Regions from separate parts of the Homo sapiens genome. Here regions 2 and 3 are each linked to region 1. The links come from fine-mapping of genetic effects on gene expression. A gene starts in region 1. Each other region holds a variant in brackets. All regions are shown on one strand. Distances are from middle to middle.

The links. PIP is the estimated chance that this variant, and not a neighbour inherited with it, causes the effect. A credible set is the group of variants that fine-mapping cannot tell apart.
Region 2: its variant is the best candidate, but not a certain one, in a credible set for the expression of RPP40 in testis (GTEx, PIP 0.61).
Region 3: its variant is the best candidate, but not a certain one, in a credible set for the expression of RPP40 in T cells (TOPMed, PIP 0.54).

The regions. Positions count from the first base shown.
Region 1 is chr6:5,001,251-5,006,476 of GRCh38, reverse strand. It overlaps RPP40 (ribonuclease P/MRP subunit p40), which reads left to right and starts at 2,440. Exons shown (of 8, transcript NM_006638.4): 1 at 2,440-2,597; 2 at 4,232-4,376. The coding sequence starts at 2,475. It overlaps LYRM4-AS1 (LYRM4 antisense RNA 1), which reads right to left and starts at 2,661. Exons shown (of 4, transcript NR_126015.1): 1 at 2,518-2,661. RefSeq lists silencers at 2,330-2,459, 2,590-2,839.
Region 2 is chr6:5,042,475-5,047,700 of GRCh38, reverse strand. The region is part of intron 2 of LYRM4-AS1 (LYRM4 antisense RNA 1); the gene reads right to left. It also overlaps a transcript of LYRM4 not described here. Among named protein-coding and RNA genes, the nearest start is that of PPP1R3G, 40 kb to the left of the region's middle. RefSeq lists an enhancer at 1,880-3,079. The variant A/G (reference allele first, on the strand shown) is at 2,656.
Region 3 is chr6:4,957,950-4,963,175 of GRCh38, reverse strand. No RefSeq gene overlaps it. Among named protein-coding and RNA genes, the nearest start is that of LYRM4-AS1, 43 kb to the left of the region's middle. The variant C/T (reference allele first, on the strand shown) is at 2,676.

The DNA of each region.
Region 1 (5,226 bases):
TGACGAAGGTGGCTGAAACTGGCTGTAGAAACGCAGAGAGCAAGAAGAGGCTGCAATCAGGATGCGTGCTGCAGGCAGGGCCACAAGACTTACTGTGGGATTGCATGGCGGGTGAGAAGGGAAGAAGTCAGGGGTGAGTCCTTGTACTAGAGTCATCTGGATACTCCGCTCAGGGAAGAGGCGCCACATCTAGGGGTTATCAGCAGCCAGAGAGGAGGACTTAAAGCTGCAAGACTCTGTGGGGTCTCTCTTGAGAAGAGGGCAGTTTATATCTCTCAATACATTTTTCAGCTGATATTTACATAGATAGAATTTATTTTGCATCTTCAAAATATGCAACATTTTAAACTAAATGGTTTGCTGGAAAAGCTTCACGGTGCTTCCAAATACAATTGGTAGACCATCAGGATCACACCAGTCACTTTGTGGAGTTTTGGAATGTCGACAAAGGAGAGGTACATCCGTGATGTTTCAGTCTTGGGCCACTGCTACCACACACAAAGCAACTGTCTGGTGACAATTACATTAAATATGAGGTGACCAAGAAGCAATGCTTTAAGCCTTTTACATCTTAACATGTTATTAGTAGCTGTTATTTATAAAACATCTAGCTGCCATATTGTGATCTAGGAAATTAGTAGGGTTTTTTTTAATTAACTTGCCACGCCTTATAATTCTGCTGTTTAAAATAATGGGAAACAGGTTCTCATTAGGTTTTTCCTTGGAAAGAAAATGTGACATTTCAGTCATAGATTACATTTTGACTTTTTTTTTTTTTTTGAGACAGAGTCTCACTCTGTCGCCCAGCCTAGAAGTGCAGTGGCGAGATCTTGACTCACTGCAACCTCTGCCTCCCAGGTTCGAGTGATTCTTCTGCCTCAGCCTCTTGAGTAGCTGGGATTACAGGCATGCGCCACCACACCCTGTTAATTTTTGTATTTTTAGTAGAAAGCGTTTCACCATGTTGGCCAGGGTGGTCTTGAACTCCTGACCTCAGGCGATCTGCTCGCCTCGGCCTCCCAAATTGCTGGGACTACAGGCGTGAGCCACAGCACTCAGCCAGATTACCGATGTTTTTAGTGGCAGATGACTTTCCGGCCTTGTCTTAGTTTTAATTTTTTTTTTTGAGATGGGGTCTTACTATATTGTCCAGGGTGGTCGTGAACTTCTGAGTTCAAGTGATCCTCCCACCTCAGCCTCCCAAAGTGCTGGGACTACAGGCGTGAGCCACTGTGCTCGGCCAGATTACTGATGTTTATAATGGCAGATGACTTTCCAGCCTTGTCTTAGTTTTATTTTTATTTTTGGAGATGGGGTCTCACTATATTGCCCAGGCTGGTCTTGAACTCCTAAGCTCAAGTGATCCTCCCACCTCAGCCTCCCAAAGTGCTGGGATTACAGGCATGACCCACTGTGACTGGCTTAGTTTTAAATTCTTAATTATTTACCTTGTAAACTACTTAATTCCATTTCTTCCACATCTCATAGAAAAACTGATGTTCCAGGAAGATGTATCACCAATATTCTGCTGTTTTGTATCCTGCCAGTGCAGAATTGGGGCTGTGCCTCTCTAGTTTGAGAAGCATGTAGTAACATACTTGATTTTGCCCTGATCAGTAACGTACCGCATGCTGGGAGCCGCAGTCTCTTAACCGCTCCAAGCCCGTGACAGAAAAACGAAATGGAAAAATGACTTAGGAGAATTATCACTATTAACCCCCAGAAACAACACATTATTAAAAGCGGTTCTGAAGGGCTATTTAAAAGGGAACTCAATAGTAGTTTCAAAGGAGTCCTATTGTAAGGCAAAAATTGTGCTTTACCTTCCCGCACAACCTTCCCTAATGTTTTGGGAAGGACTGATACAAACTTTTAGTCCTGTTGGCCTGTGTTAATAATGGCCAAGAGGTCCCCAATGGGTAACAGAGTCCTGTGAACCAAACAGTGTGAGAAGTCAGAAAGCAGCTGGGTGTGGCCCCCAAAGCAGCTTAGGGGGTTACTTAACTGTGCGGCTACATTTCTTGACCATATACTAAAGGAACTGGGCCTTTCCATGCGATGTTTTCCTTTTATAACGGTGGCAGGAAGCGGTCCCTCTGAGGGGCCTGACCGAGGTATGCGCCGGCGCCAGGCTGGGGTCCAAGGGGCGCTCCGAGGCGGGGCCCACAGAGAGGGTTTAGGGCAATTCCAAGGGATGGCGGGGACGGAGGAAAAGTGGCGTTGAAAAGGCAAGAGCCAGGTTCCCAGCCACTGGGACAGTGAATTTACAGCTTCAGACATCCACCAAAGAGCGGCTGCGTGGGCTCCTAAGAAGTCTAAGAACTGCTCAGAAATCCAGCGCCGCCATCCCCACTCCACCGCCGCCAGGGGCGCACAGCAGCGGGTATGCGGCCGGAGGGAAGGGGCGGGGCGGGAGGAAGGGGCGGGGCGTGCCCCGCCAGCGGAGGCCGGGAGGACCAGGAACCCAGGAGAGCATGGCCACGCTGCGCCGGCTTCGGGAGGCGCCGCGGCACTTACTGGTTTGCGAGAAATCCAACTTCGGCAACCACAAGTCGCGCCACCGGCATCTTGTGCAGACGCACTACTATAACTACAGGGTGAGTCCGGCTGTCCTCGGCTTTTCGGGCCGTGCTCAGTCCCCGCGTGCGAGAGAGGTTTGGGGAGAGTGCTAGGCTTCGCGGGGCGGGGCCGCCGGCGGTACGCGGAGGGGCGGGGCCCTCGCCCGGCTTGCTGGGAGTTGTAGTCTCTTAACTGCTCTAAGCCAGTGGCTTGCAGGGCTACAGGACTACAACTCCCAGGATGCGCCGGGCGTGGGGGCGGTACCCAGTCTGGAGGGAGCTGTTGTCAGGGGCGTTCTGGCTGCTCACTCGTGTCAACCCGCCGAACTGGGAGTGAGTCCAGGGAGGGATTCGAGGTTCAGGGCCGGGACCAGGGAGTTAGGCTGTGGGGCAGCCACGTGCACCTCGCTTTTTCCCCAAATCAGGGCGGGTCTCGCGCCTCCTCCCCACCACTGCCTCCTCCCCAGCTTGAATCCCTCTCCCACCTGCGTACCTGTGGATCTCACCAGAGCATCCTGCCTAGGCTCGGCCCAGGAAGCGACTGATTTTCCTTTTTTTTTTTTTTTTTTTTTTAGACGGAGTTTCGCTCTGTCGCCCAGGCTGGAGTGCAGTGGCGCGATCTCGGCTCACTGCAGGCTCCGCCTCCCGGGTTCACGCCATTCTCCTGCCTCAGCCTCCCGTGTAGCTGGGTCTACAGGCGCGCGCCACCACGCCCGGCTAATTTTTGTATTTTTAGTAGAGACGAGGTTTCACCGTGTTAGCCAGGATGGTCTCGATCTCCTGACCTCGTGATCCGCCCGTCTCGGCCTCCCAAAGTGCTGGGATTACAGGCGTGAGCCACCGCGCCCGGCCGAAGCGACTGATTTTCTAAATTGGTTGTTGGAACTAATTTGATATCTGAGAGACTTCAAGAAACTAACCTTATCATGGGGGATTAAACATTTTACACTTTAAATGGATCAGCTTAATAACTCAGGTTTGACTGAGCAGTGTTTCAGAGATGTTAAGTGGTGACCTGATCAGTCAGAACAGGCTGGTGTTTGAGCCTTGGGACAGTGATGACTTTTACAATGTGGCAACATTTGAAGCCTGCCCTGTTTTTAACACCTATTTTGGATGTCAAGCTCATCACAGCAGTCAGGGATGTATACTTTAACTCGCCTGTTGCATTTTTCTGTCTCGAAAATGAAAACATACAGGAGCACCATTGCTTGCACATAGATTCTTAGTAATTGGATGTCCATAAATTAATTCCTTATGCCCCGACAGATAGTTTGTTTCATTCCAGGATAACACCAGGGTAAACAAATCAAGGGATATTCAATTATACTATATTTCCTTGAAAATAAAATAGTGAAAGGAACAGGACATAAAATATACAGCATTGCTAATTTGCAAAAGATTAAATGCAAGCACGAGTTTTCCATTAAAAGTATTCTGTTCAATCCCCTTCCTGTACTGTACGTTTGAATGCAGAAATGAAAAACTTAAGTAGTCAGATTTCTCTTTGCCTGAGATAGGTAAGTTAACATAAGAGTTTTGTTGCCCGTGTTTTTATGTTCCAGTGAAACTCGTGGAGAAATAACAACTTTCATGATTTTGTTTCATTCCTAAAAACCTGGGTGTTCATCTTCATGGAAGTAAGACCTTGTTTGTATTACACATTCCAATAGGTTTCATTTCTCATTCCTGAATGTGGGATACTATCGGAAGAACTGAAAAACCTGGTCATGAACACTGGACCCTATTACTTTGTGAAGAATTTACCTCTTCATGAATTAATTACACCTGAATTCATCAGTACCTTTATAAAGAAAGGTAAGAAAAACCTGAAATGGCTGTGAACAAGGCTGGATGAGGAAGGGTAGGGAGACCACATCACGATGCTAGGGCTGTTGTTTTGTTTCAAACAGGGCCTGTGGTATAGTCTGTGTGGTCAGGTGCACACGCGTTCTCCCCCGCATTCTCATCCTGTTCTTTCTTGTACCCTCTTTAGGTGGTGGTTTCTGATTGCAATTGGCCACAAGTGTTGGATGGGGATGTTGTAACATGACAGTATCCGTCCCCTTAAAATGAGGATTAATGGAGAGGAGAGACTTGCAGTCTGTGTTCAGATGCACTGCTGTTGAAGATGTGGCTGCAAAGACACTATGCTGTCAGCAGTCCCACAGCAGCTGTCTCAGAGGGTTGGTCTCCCGATACAGCCACAGCTACTGTTCACAGAGCAAAGTGCTTGTTGGGGTCCAGTGTCTTCTGCTTAGATTTTGTAGCCATAACCCCTCCTCTACTCACCCCATTTCCACCCATATCTGCTGGGTTGGACTGGTTTGTTTCAGTTGATTCCTGGGAGCCATTTGTTTGAAACTATTTCAGAGGGCCTTTAGGGATTCCACCCACACTACATAACTCACCTGTACAGTGGCCACATGCTTATCTTGTGGTAGCCCCCATGTGTGTCCTCTCCAGTGAAGATATGAAGAACTCTAGTTACCAGTAGCTCCTCTCATTCTGACACTGCTGGGGCGACTTATGAGCTGGGCATCTTGTCTGGTCTCATCACCGTTATTCCTTTCATCTATTTCAAGGCCTGACACCACTCTGTGAATTACGTGGACAATGGCTGTAGCAGGCACTGTTAAATGTCTTACCAAATTTAACCCTTGCAACA
Region 2 (5,226 bases), 41 kb before region 1:
CTCCCACCAAGGCAGGGTCATATGAACTCCCAGATTTATATTAGTTACATTTTAAGGCTTATTGTATGAGAGTTTAGATCTAAGATATGGTGTTCAGCTGTATCTTGGATTAAAATAATAACTGTGGGCCAATAAAAGAATGCATCATCACTGCCATATTATTGGATTTCTACAGCTCTGAAGTCAAGTGGATCCTATACAAACCAGAAAGACAAAGGAATATGAGGAGACCTCATCAGGATGGAAATCACAATTTTAAGGCAGATACATGTTTTTGGAAGATCAACCTTATGCAATATTGAGTTCATGAAAATGAGGAGGTCTAAAAGTAGGGTGACCAACCATCCTGGTTTGACAAAGACTGATAGATATTTCCTGGGGTGCAGGACCTTCAGTGCTAAGACTGGGGAAGTTTCAGAAAATGCACTGATAGTGGAAATCTAAAGTATACTCAGAAATATGTTGATCGTCTTATCTAAAAGATGGTGACAGATTGTGGTAGCTAGTCTCCAAAGACGGTTCCCCAATAAATTATACCTTCCTGAATCTGTGACTTTGTGTAATCCTATCCCCTTGAATCTGGGTTGACCTGTAGCTTTTATTTTTTTTGAGATAGGGTCTCAGTCTGTCACCCAGACTGGAGTGCAGTGGCATGATCATGGCTTACTGAAACCTCAACTTCCCTGGGCTCAGGAGATTCTCCCACCGCAGCCTCCCAAGTAGCTGAGACCACAGAGGTGTGCCAACATGCCCAGCTAATTTTTGTATTCTTTTGTAGAGACGGGGTTTCACCATGTTGCCCGGGCTGGTCTCGAACTCCTGGGCTCAAGCGATCCACCCTTCTTGGCCTCCCAAAGTGTTGGCGTTACAGGTGTGTGCTACCATGCCCCACCGTGTGGCTTATTTTTGACCAACAGAATATGACGGAAGCCATCTTGGTGTGAAATCTCAGACTAGGTCATTAGAAACCTTACAGCTTCCACCTGGGTATCTTGGCATATTTACTCTGAGGGAAGCCAGCTGCCATCTAAGTTCAACTACTTTAAAATCACCAAGCTCAAACTAAGCATATGGGGAGCCTGTGTGCAAAGAGCGAGATGCCTGTGCAGCCGCCAGCTGTCCCAGCTGTCCCAGCTGAAGCACCAGATGTATTAGTAAAGAAGCCATGTGGGACGTCCAGCCTTCAGAAGACGGCAGCCACGCGAGAGACTCCGAGTGCAAATCACCCAGCTGAATCCAGTCAGTCCACACAATTATGATAAAAAATAGTGGAATATCTGTAATCCCAGCACTTTGGGAGGCCGAGGCGGGTGGATCACGAGGTCAGGAGATCGAGATCATCCTGGCTAACACGGTGAAACCCCGTCTCTACTAAAAATACAAAAAATTAGCCGGGTGTGGTGGCGGGCACCTGTAGTCCCAGCTACTCGGGAGGCTGAGGCAGGAGAATGGCGTGAACCCAGGAGGCAGAGCTTGCAGTGAGCTGAGATTGCACCACTGCACTGCAGCGTGGGAAACGGAGTGAGACTCCATCTCAAAAAAAAAAAAGTGGAATATTATTTTAAGCCACTAATTTTTTCCTTAAAAAAGCTGTGGTAAGCTCATGCTGAAGGCCTATTTCCTAACCTACACTGGAGACTTCTTCCTTACTCCTGTGCCTAGGGGAATGTGCCCAAGCTCTGGGCAGAGTGCCCCGTGCTCATGCAGGTAGACGTTCCCGCTTCCCACTGCAAAGCCCACTAAGCAGCACGATGTCCTGCTCTTTTAGTTATCCAGGCACCAGAAGCCCAAAGGGGCAGCAGAAAAATACTGACAATAGAGGTAAGTCCGTTCTGGGTAATTCAGTTCATAAAGCTCGCTTTGGAGGATTTCATTTCTCCATGTTAAATACAATATGTTTTTCTTTTGAGACACCTCTTTTCGGCAGGAAAATCCTGCCATCATCATTTCCCATTTGAGTTCCGTGAGCTTCTACCTAGAGGCAAAATGGAAATGGGAATTTTATAATGAAAGAAGCAGACGGGGAGAGGAATCTGCCGTCTTCTTAACAAGCCAGTAAGAGGCACTGAAAATCTCAGAGAGCTGCCAATGACAAGCATGCTCATTCTCAGCGCAGCTGCTCTTTTACAAATCGTGGTAACATAAACAATGTAAAATCACCATTAACCGTTTCCAGAACATTTTCATCTTCCCAAACTGAAACTCTGTACCTTTTAAACAATAACTGCCCTTTCCTCTCTCCCCGAGTCCCTGGCCACCCCAGTCTACTTTCTATCTCTGTGAGTTTGATTCTCTTTGGTACCCTATAAAATGGAATCATAGAGTATTTGTCCTTTTGTGCCTGGCTTACTTCACTTAGCATAGTGTCCTCAAGGTCCATCCATGTTGTAGCACGTGGCGGGACTTCCTTCCTTGTTAAGGCTGAATCATATTTCATTGTATGGATGGACTACATTTTGGTTATCCACTCATCTATGGTTGGACATTGGGTTGCTTCTGCCTATTGGCTGTTGTGAATAATGCTGCTGGGAGGATGAAATGTGCAAATATCTCTTCAAGACCCTGCTTTCAATTCAAGCCACTGAATGTTGAGGTGGTTTGTTACATAGCAATTGGCAACCGGATGTTGAGTCACGATTACAGCATGCCACCAAC[A/G]TGGTACAAGGATGATGATCACTGAAGGAGAGAAGTGTGTTGTCCATGTGAGTGCATGAGGTCCAGCTGGAGAGATTATTACCTGACTTAGTGTCACTAGGATCTCTGCTTTGGAGTGGAAGCTCTCACTTTCCTGCGTGCCCAGGAGAAAGCATAAGGCAGGCAGGCTGTAGAGTAGCAGCCATTTAAAAATTGCACTCATAACTGTGTAACAACAAAAGAAAAGATTATTCTGGATTTGCATTCAGATTGGGCAGACTGCTAGTGTTTCTTCCACCAGGATGGTCTGAGAGCCAAGCTTGGAAAATCAGAAGCGATTGGGTCATCCAGTGCAGGACAGTTTAGCACCATGAATGGCTAATTAAGCTTGGATTCCATCACAAACTAGAGGGGATACATTTTCTTCTGTTGAAATTAATCAGGGCCGAGGAAGGAAAAAAAGAAACCATGGCCGCCTTTTTGAAACAAATCCAACAAACACGTCAGAGGGAAGCTCCACGCTGCACATGGTGATCTGGAAGTAAAGCAGGTGAGCCCTGCCCTCCTGAAGCTGGACCCTGGCACTGGTGATGAGGATAAGAGGTTTCCCAGCTGTTTAAAAGAAAACAGTGTGTCAGCCGGGCATGGTGGCTCCCGCCTGTAATCCCAGCACTTTGGGAGGCCGAGGCGGGCAGATCACTTGAGGTCAGGAGTTCGAGACCAGCCTGGCCAACATGGTGAAACCCCATCTCTACTAAAAACACAAAAATTAACCAGGCGTGGTGGTGTGCGCCTGTAATCCCAGCTACTCGGGAGGCCGAGGCAGGAGAATCACAGGTGAACCCAGGAGGCAGAGGTTGCAGTGAGCCAAGATCGTACCACTGCACTCCAGCCTGGGAGACAAGAGTGAAACTCCGTCTCACAAACAAAAAACAAACAAACAAAAAAAACCCCACAAAAAAAAGTGTATCAATACAAAAAATTTGAGGTATACTAAGGCCAACGGAGAGGATTAGGAGATAGTTTCACACAGTTCCCAAGAGGAAGGTGTGCACCACACCACAGGGCCGCACAGGGAAGCAGGAGGCAGAGCGAGAGGGGGGCTGTGGACAAGAGCCTTTTTTTGTGATTTCCTTGGGAAGAAACAGGAAGGCAAAGTAAACAGACTCGGGATTGGCCAGTTTGCTAATTTCAGCAGGCTCTGGGGTATAGGGGCTGTCCCTAATTGTCTGGTACCTGACTTTGGGTGATTAGGGAAAGTGGATAGTGGCCCAGCATGTGAGAGACCAATAAAGGAGGTGGTTGGGGTGTGGGCTCTGGATTGGTTGGTTTGTATTTGAAAAGTGCGCCCCTGGGAGGAGGAGGACTCCCGAGGAATGGGGGGTGGCACAGAGGAGGCGACAAGGGAGGCCTGAGGCTGAAGCAAAGCATACTGTTGGGTTTTCCAGATCAAGGAATGTTTGGTGTATGCATGTAGGACAGATATTAAAACATCGACTTTATAGACGCCAGAAACATGGTCAATACATTGGCCCTGTGACACTTTAACATCAAACTAAGGCACCTTTGCAGCAATGATGGATGAGACTTAGAAAGAAGGCCATCATTTGCCCTAAATAGTACAGAAAATATTTTTTATGAGAGTTGAAAGGAGGAACAAAAATTGAAGTATAAGGAGTCCTTGTAGGCCAGCCTGTATCTAAGTTTCCCATTCACATGGCATTAGCAGACGAAATAGATTTGAAATTTCCAGGGTCTCTACCAATATCTTGGTGGATTGCAGAGTATGTTAAAAGTATGAGAAATATATATATATCTCAAAAAAATTGGACAATAATATCTTGGTGTATTTCTCAGGTCATGGTGGCAAGTCCTGCAGTTATCTTGTTGGAGGGTATTATCTGAGAAGTCAGTAAAGTACATGTAAAGACTGGTGATATTTGTGTGTAACCAAGGGGATGGGGTGGTTGTGGTCGTTACAGTTGGGGACAGGGCAGGAGGTCCTGGTGGAAAGCTGGAGCATACAGTAGAAGTCACTAGGGAGTGTATGACCCTCTCCCCAGGGTCCAGAGGATTCACTGGCCTGCAGCAGCTGCCTCTTGGGGAAAATAATACTCTTCGTCAATTTTAGAATGGCATTGAGAGTAGTAGCTTCTACCAGGTTTTCCTTTAGGTGTGGAGGGGACGGTGCATGTTTTGGCAGAGAGCAAGGAACATACCAGGATCATGGGCCAAGCAGACAGTAAATTCAGGAAACACAATAGAGTTCCTAATTCAAAAGAAGAAAAGCAACAAATGTCCATGTCCATTTTGTCAGCACCTTGAGAGTGTCACTGGGTTGGAGGCTTTAGTGTCCAGGTGATGTATCTCTAATAGCGATGTCTTGGGCTAGGGTGATGTTGTCTAAGGTGATGTCATCTCCAGCTGCGAGCTTCTGAGGAATGTCATCTGGGATGTGGGTCTGAGGTACCCTGTGCAACTGCAGAAAGTTGGATGTGATTAAGATCTTGTCTGCAAAGATAGTGTGCAATGGCAAAGCTGTTGAGGTCCCCATGGGTAGCCTAGAAAAGGTAAATTGTGACCCGTTAGAGG
Region 3 (5,226 bases), 43 kb after region 1:
CAATGAAAACATTTCCCCAATTTATTTGAAAAGTAAAAGTTTCTCATAATCACACCCACTAGAGGTAATTAGTGATGATCAAACCGAAAGTTTGGTGTCTTTTCTGTGCTGACATGACTGTCCCTCACCGTGGAAATCACCAAGAAGTTCCTGCTGGGGATAATGAGTGTCAGGCACCAAGCTTGCATCAGGAGTGATGGCACACATTCCAAATGAATTGCATTCCTGAGTTGAAGACAGTGAGTAGCAAAAGTTTATATACCAAGGCTTTGTCTAAAAACTTACCTAATTTTATTTCACCCAGGAGCTTGACAGTGACAGCGTGGCTAGCAAAAATACCTATAATAACATACATATGACAAGTCTACAAATTGCTTCTAAAATTCAAGGGGCAAGAAATGTCACATTTACTTATTGTCATAGAAAGAGAAAGCCCAGGCTGGGCGTGGTGGCTCATGCCTGTAATCCCAGCACTTTGGGAGGCCGAGGCGGGTGGATCACGAGATCAGGAGATCGAGACCATCCTGGCTAACACGGTGAAACCCCGTCTCTACTAAAAATACAAAAAATTAGCTGGGCGTGGTGGTGGGCGCCTGTAGTCCTAACTGCTCAGGAGGCTGAGGCAGGAGAATGGCATGAACCCGGGAGGCAGAGCTTGTAGTGAGCCGAGATCGCGCCACTGCACTCCAGCCTGGGTGACAGAGCGAGACTCTGTCTCAAAAAAAAAAAAAAAAAAAGAAAGAAAGACAGAGAAAGGCCAAGAGCCCACGACACACCATTACCCTGGGGTCTATAGAGCGCAAAGGATGAAAAAGGAGAGAATGCTGTTCTTGGGTGTGGTTTGGTTGCTATGAAATCTCTGTTCCAGCCCTTACTGGGGGGGGTGACCTTACGTAAATTATATAACCTCTTTTGGTCTCAGAGTTCTCATTTGAAAAATAGGGCTGATTGTAATTCTCATCTAAGACAGTAATAAATATTCATCACCATCATTGCTACATGTTCTCTTAAAGAGTTGCACAGTATGGGCATAAGATCATTTGTACATCCAATCCCACATAAAGGGACATTTAAATGCAGAGAATAGACTATTTTAGCAAGCTGTTACAGGACGTGAAGATGAAAATTTTGTCTGAGACCCCATCTATATCAATGTCTGTTTGTATTTATCTCTATCTATCTATCTATCTATCTATCTATCTATCTATCTATCTATCTGTATATTTATCAAAAGTGAGCTGTGAGAATGACCACCCTGGTTGTATTAGTCGTCTACTGTTGAATAGCAAATTACCCCCAAACTCACACTTTCTGGAACAAAAAATCCAGATGTAGCTTAGCCAGATCCTCTGTCTAGAGGTCTCTCCAGGGCTGCGGTTTAAAGGGTGAACCAGGCTGGACTGGGAAAGGATTCTCTCTCAAGCCCGCTCCTGTGGGCACTGGCAGGACTCAGCTCCTCACTTGATGTTGGTGGGAGGTCGCCCTCGGTCCCTTGGCTCATGGGCCTGTCCTATGGGTACTTCCCAGCATGGCAGCTGGACTCTCCCATAGTAAGCCAGCCAGAGGAGGCAAAAAGAGAACATGTGTGCACCAGCCACAAGTCACAGTCTTTTACAGCCAGATTTCAGAAGTGACTGCTTTTGCCATGTTCTGTTTGTTAGAAGCGAGTCACCAGGTCTAGCCGTACATCATACACAGATGTGAAGAGCAAGAGGTCGGGATCACTGGGAGCCAGTTTAGAAGCTGCTGAACGCACTTCCTTCTCCTTCTCTCCTCCTCCTTCTCCTTCTCCTCCTTCTCCTCCTTCTCCTCCTCCTCCTCCTTCTCCTTCTCCTCCTTCTCCTCCCTTCTTGTTCTTCCTTTTCTTCTTCTTCTCTGAGGATAAGTAACAAGGTACACGCAAATTTAGAACTATATATCTTTCAATAGAACTTAGTCTGCTGTCATTATGAAAAACTTTTTCCTACCATGCTTTTTGCTTTAATAGATATTTTGATATTAGCATAGCTACACCAGTTTTTGTTTGGTTATTGTTTGCACAGTATATATTTTCTACCTTTTTACGTTCAACTTTTCAGTTTCCGATGCGTTTTCTTTTCTTGTCAACAGCATATATGTATATCTAGGTCAATATATTTTGAATACAGCCTGAAAATATTTAGCTTTCACACAAGAATTTAGTCTATTTTTATTTAATGTGTTTGTTAATATTTTGAGATAAAATATACCATATTTTCTATGTGCTATTATTTGTCCTGCCAGTCTATGTTGCTTTTTCACATCTTTCTTGCACATTTCGGATCAGTTAAGTATTTTTCCATAGTCTCCTTATGTTAGTTTAGAGGATTATATATATAATATACACACACGTTCAAAAAATTGAGACATAATTGAAACAACATAAAATTAACCATTTTAAGAGGCAAACAATTCAATTTTTAAAGGATATTTACAAGGTTGTGTGAACATTACCATTATTTAATTCCAGAACATTTTCATACCCCCCAAATAAAAACCTGTACCTGCCGCTCCCCACTCCGGTTGCCCCATGTCACCCCCTGTCCCTGGAAACCACGAATCTATTTTCTGTTTCTATGGATTTACCAATCCTTGGCATTTTATATAAATGGAATCATACAATATGTGGCCTTTTGCATCTGGCTTCTTTCACTTAG[C/T]GTAATGTTTTCAAGGTTCAACCACACTGTAGCATGTATCAATACCTCATTCATTCATCTGTATTGCCAGATAACATTCCATTGGATATGCCAATTCATTGTTTATCCTTTCTCCAGTTGGTGAATATTTGGTGGCTATTATGAATAATGCTGCTATGAACATTCACATACAAGTATTTGAGTACCTATCTTTAATTCTCTTGGATATATACTAGACGTAGAATTGCAAGGCTTAAGAGTTCCTTAAGAAGTTTAACTTCATCCTTATGCCAGTTTGAGGAACTATCAAGCAGTTTTCTACTGTGGCTGTACCAGTTGACATTTTCACCAGCAAATGTGTGAGGATTTCAATTTTTTCACATGTTCATCAACATTTGTTATTGTTATTATAACTGAACGTATTAGTTCAGTTTTTGGTATTTTCTTGTTATAGTCATTCTAGTGGGATAAAGTGATGTCTTACTGTAGTTTGATTTGCATTTCCATAGTGGCTGACATTGAGCATCTTTTTTTTTTTTTTTTTTTTTTTGTGACAGGGTCTTGCCCTGTCACCCAGGCTAGAGTGCAGTGGCACATTTGCAGTTCACCACAACCTACTTGGTAATGGTGTACATATAAGTTTTATATGTTGTCAGATTACTTCATTGAGAATATCTGCATTTGTATTAATAAGGAATGTTAACATAAATATATAGTCTATATGGTCTATAGTTTCCTTGTGATGTCTTTGTCTGGTTTTGGTATTAGGGCAACACTAGCCTTATAGAGGTAAGGAAGCATTCACTCCTCTTATTTTGTGGAAGAGTTTGTGAAGGATTGGCATTGATTCCTTTTTAAACATTTGACAGAATTTATGAGTGAAGCCATCTAGTGCTGGGCTTTTCTTCGTAGAAAGTTTTTTGACAGCAGATTCAATCTTTTTGTCTATTTTAGTTTTTTCTTTCTTCTTGAGTCAATTTCAAGTTTGTGTCTTTCTAGGAATTTGTCCATTTCATTTAGCTAATCTAATTTGTTGGGATACGATTCCTCAGCACTCTCTTATAGTTCTTTTTATTTCTCTAAGGTTGGTAGTAGTGTCCCCCCTTTTCATTTCTGATTTCGGTGATTTGAATAGTCTCTTATGTCCTTGGTCAGTCTAACTAAAATTTGTCAATTTTGTTGATCTTTTCAAAGAAATGACTTTAGGTTTCATAGATTTTTCTCTACTGTTTTTCTGTACTTCATTTTACTTACTCCTGCCCTAATCTTCATTTCTTTCCTTCTACTTGCTATGGGTTTAGTTTGCGGTTCTTTATTTCTAGTTTCTTAAGGTAGAAGATTAGGTTATTGATTTGGCATCTACTTTTCTCATATAGATGTTTTATTATATAATTTATTACATAAATTTGGTTATGTTGTGTCTTCATCTTCATTCATCTCAAAGTATTTTCTAATTTCTCTTGTGGTTTCTTGTTTGACCCATTTGTTATTTAGGAATGTGGTTTAATTTCCGCATATTTTTGAATTCTCCACATTTCTTTGTTATTGATATCTCATTGCATTCCATTGAGGCTGGAGGACATACTTTGTATGATTTTAATCATTTTAAACTTTTAAGACTTGTTTTATTGCCTAACATATGGTCTATCCTCGAGAATGTCCCAGGTGCACTTGAGAAGCATATGCCCTCTGCTGTTATTGGATGAAGGGTTGTATAGGTGTGTTACGTCTAGGTGGTTTAAAATGTTGTTCCAGTCTTCTATTTCCTTGTTGATCCTCTGTCTAGTTGTCCTATGCAGTGTGTTTCATACAGGTGATAGACATATATATGTATATAATTTACCCAGTTTTAGTATATAAAATTTAAGAAAATAAGAATTAATGTTAAATACATTAGATCTTAGCTTTTATTCTAATACCTGTATTAAACCATTTATTAGCCATTTAAGTGCTTGTGACTCTAAAGGTCATAAAACAGATTTTAAATTTTGAAATGCTAGTCTCTTATCTTGCCAAAAAAGTAAGTTTTAAACCAGGGTTGAAATCATTCAATGTCATTTTCACCAAAGCAGACATTCGTTTGCTTCTTCAGACAGACATGCTGTCAGAACGTTCCCTAGGGAAGAGGGAGAGGATTCCTGTGATAGGAGAGGATTCCCCTGTTGCCAAATAGTGAAGGTATTTATTTTTAAATGCTAGTTAGTATTGAGAGAGCTCGGTGGGCTGGTCCAGCTCTTACAGATGCAGAAAGCTTGTAGACCATCAGAATTCCCTGGTAAGTTTAGCGTTGACTTGAAAATAGCCTAAATCCAGAGCCACTGGGCAGGCTGGAACCACCCGTTCTGCCATGCTGCCCCACCACTCTCACTTGCAGAGAATCACAGGCCCATGGGATGCCAGGATGGGCTGGACACCACAGGCCATTGGTCCCCTCCTTGCCTTCCCACTTAAGGGAAGAGTGCATAGAGCAGTGGAGTGTAGCCCTCTCTTCCCAGGTGCTAGGTCACCAACAGGCTGTGTGATGGTGGGCAAGTGGCCTGACCCTTCTGGGCCTCAGTTTCTTCACATGTAA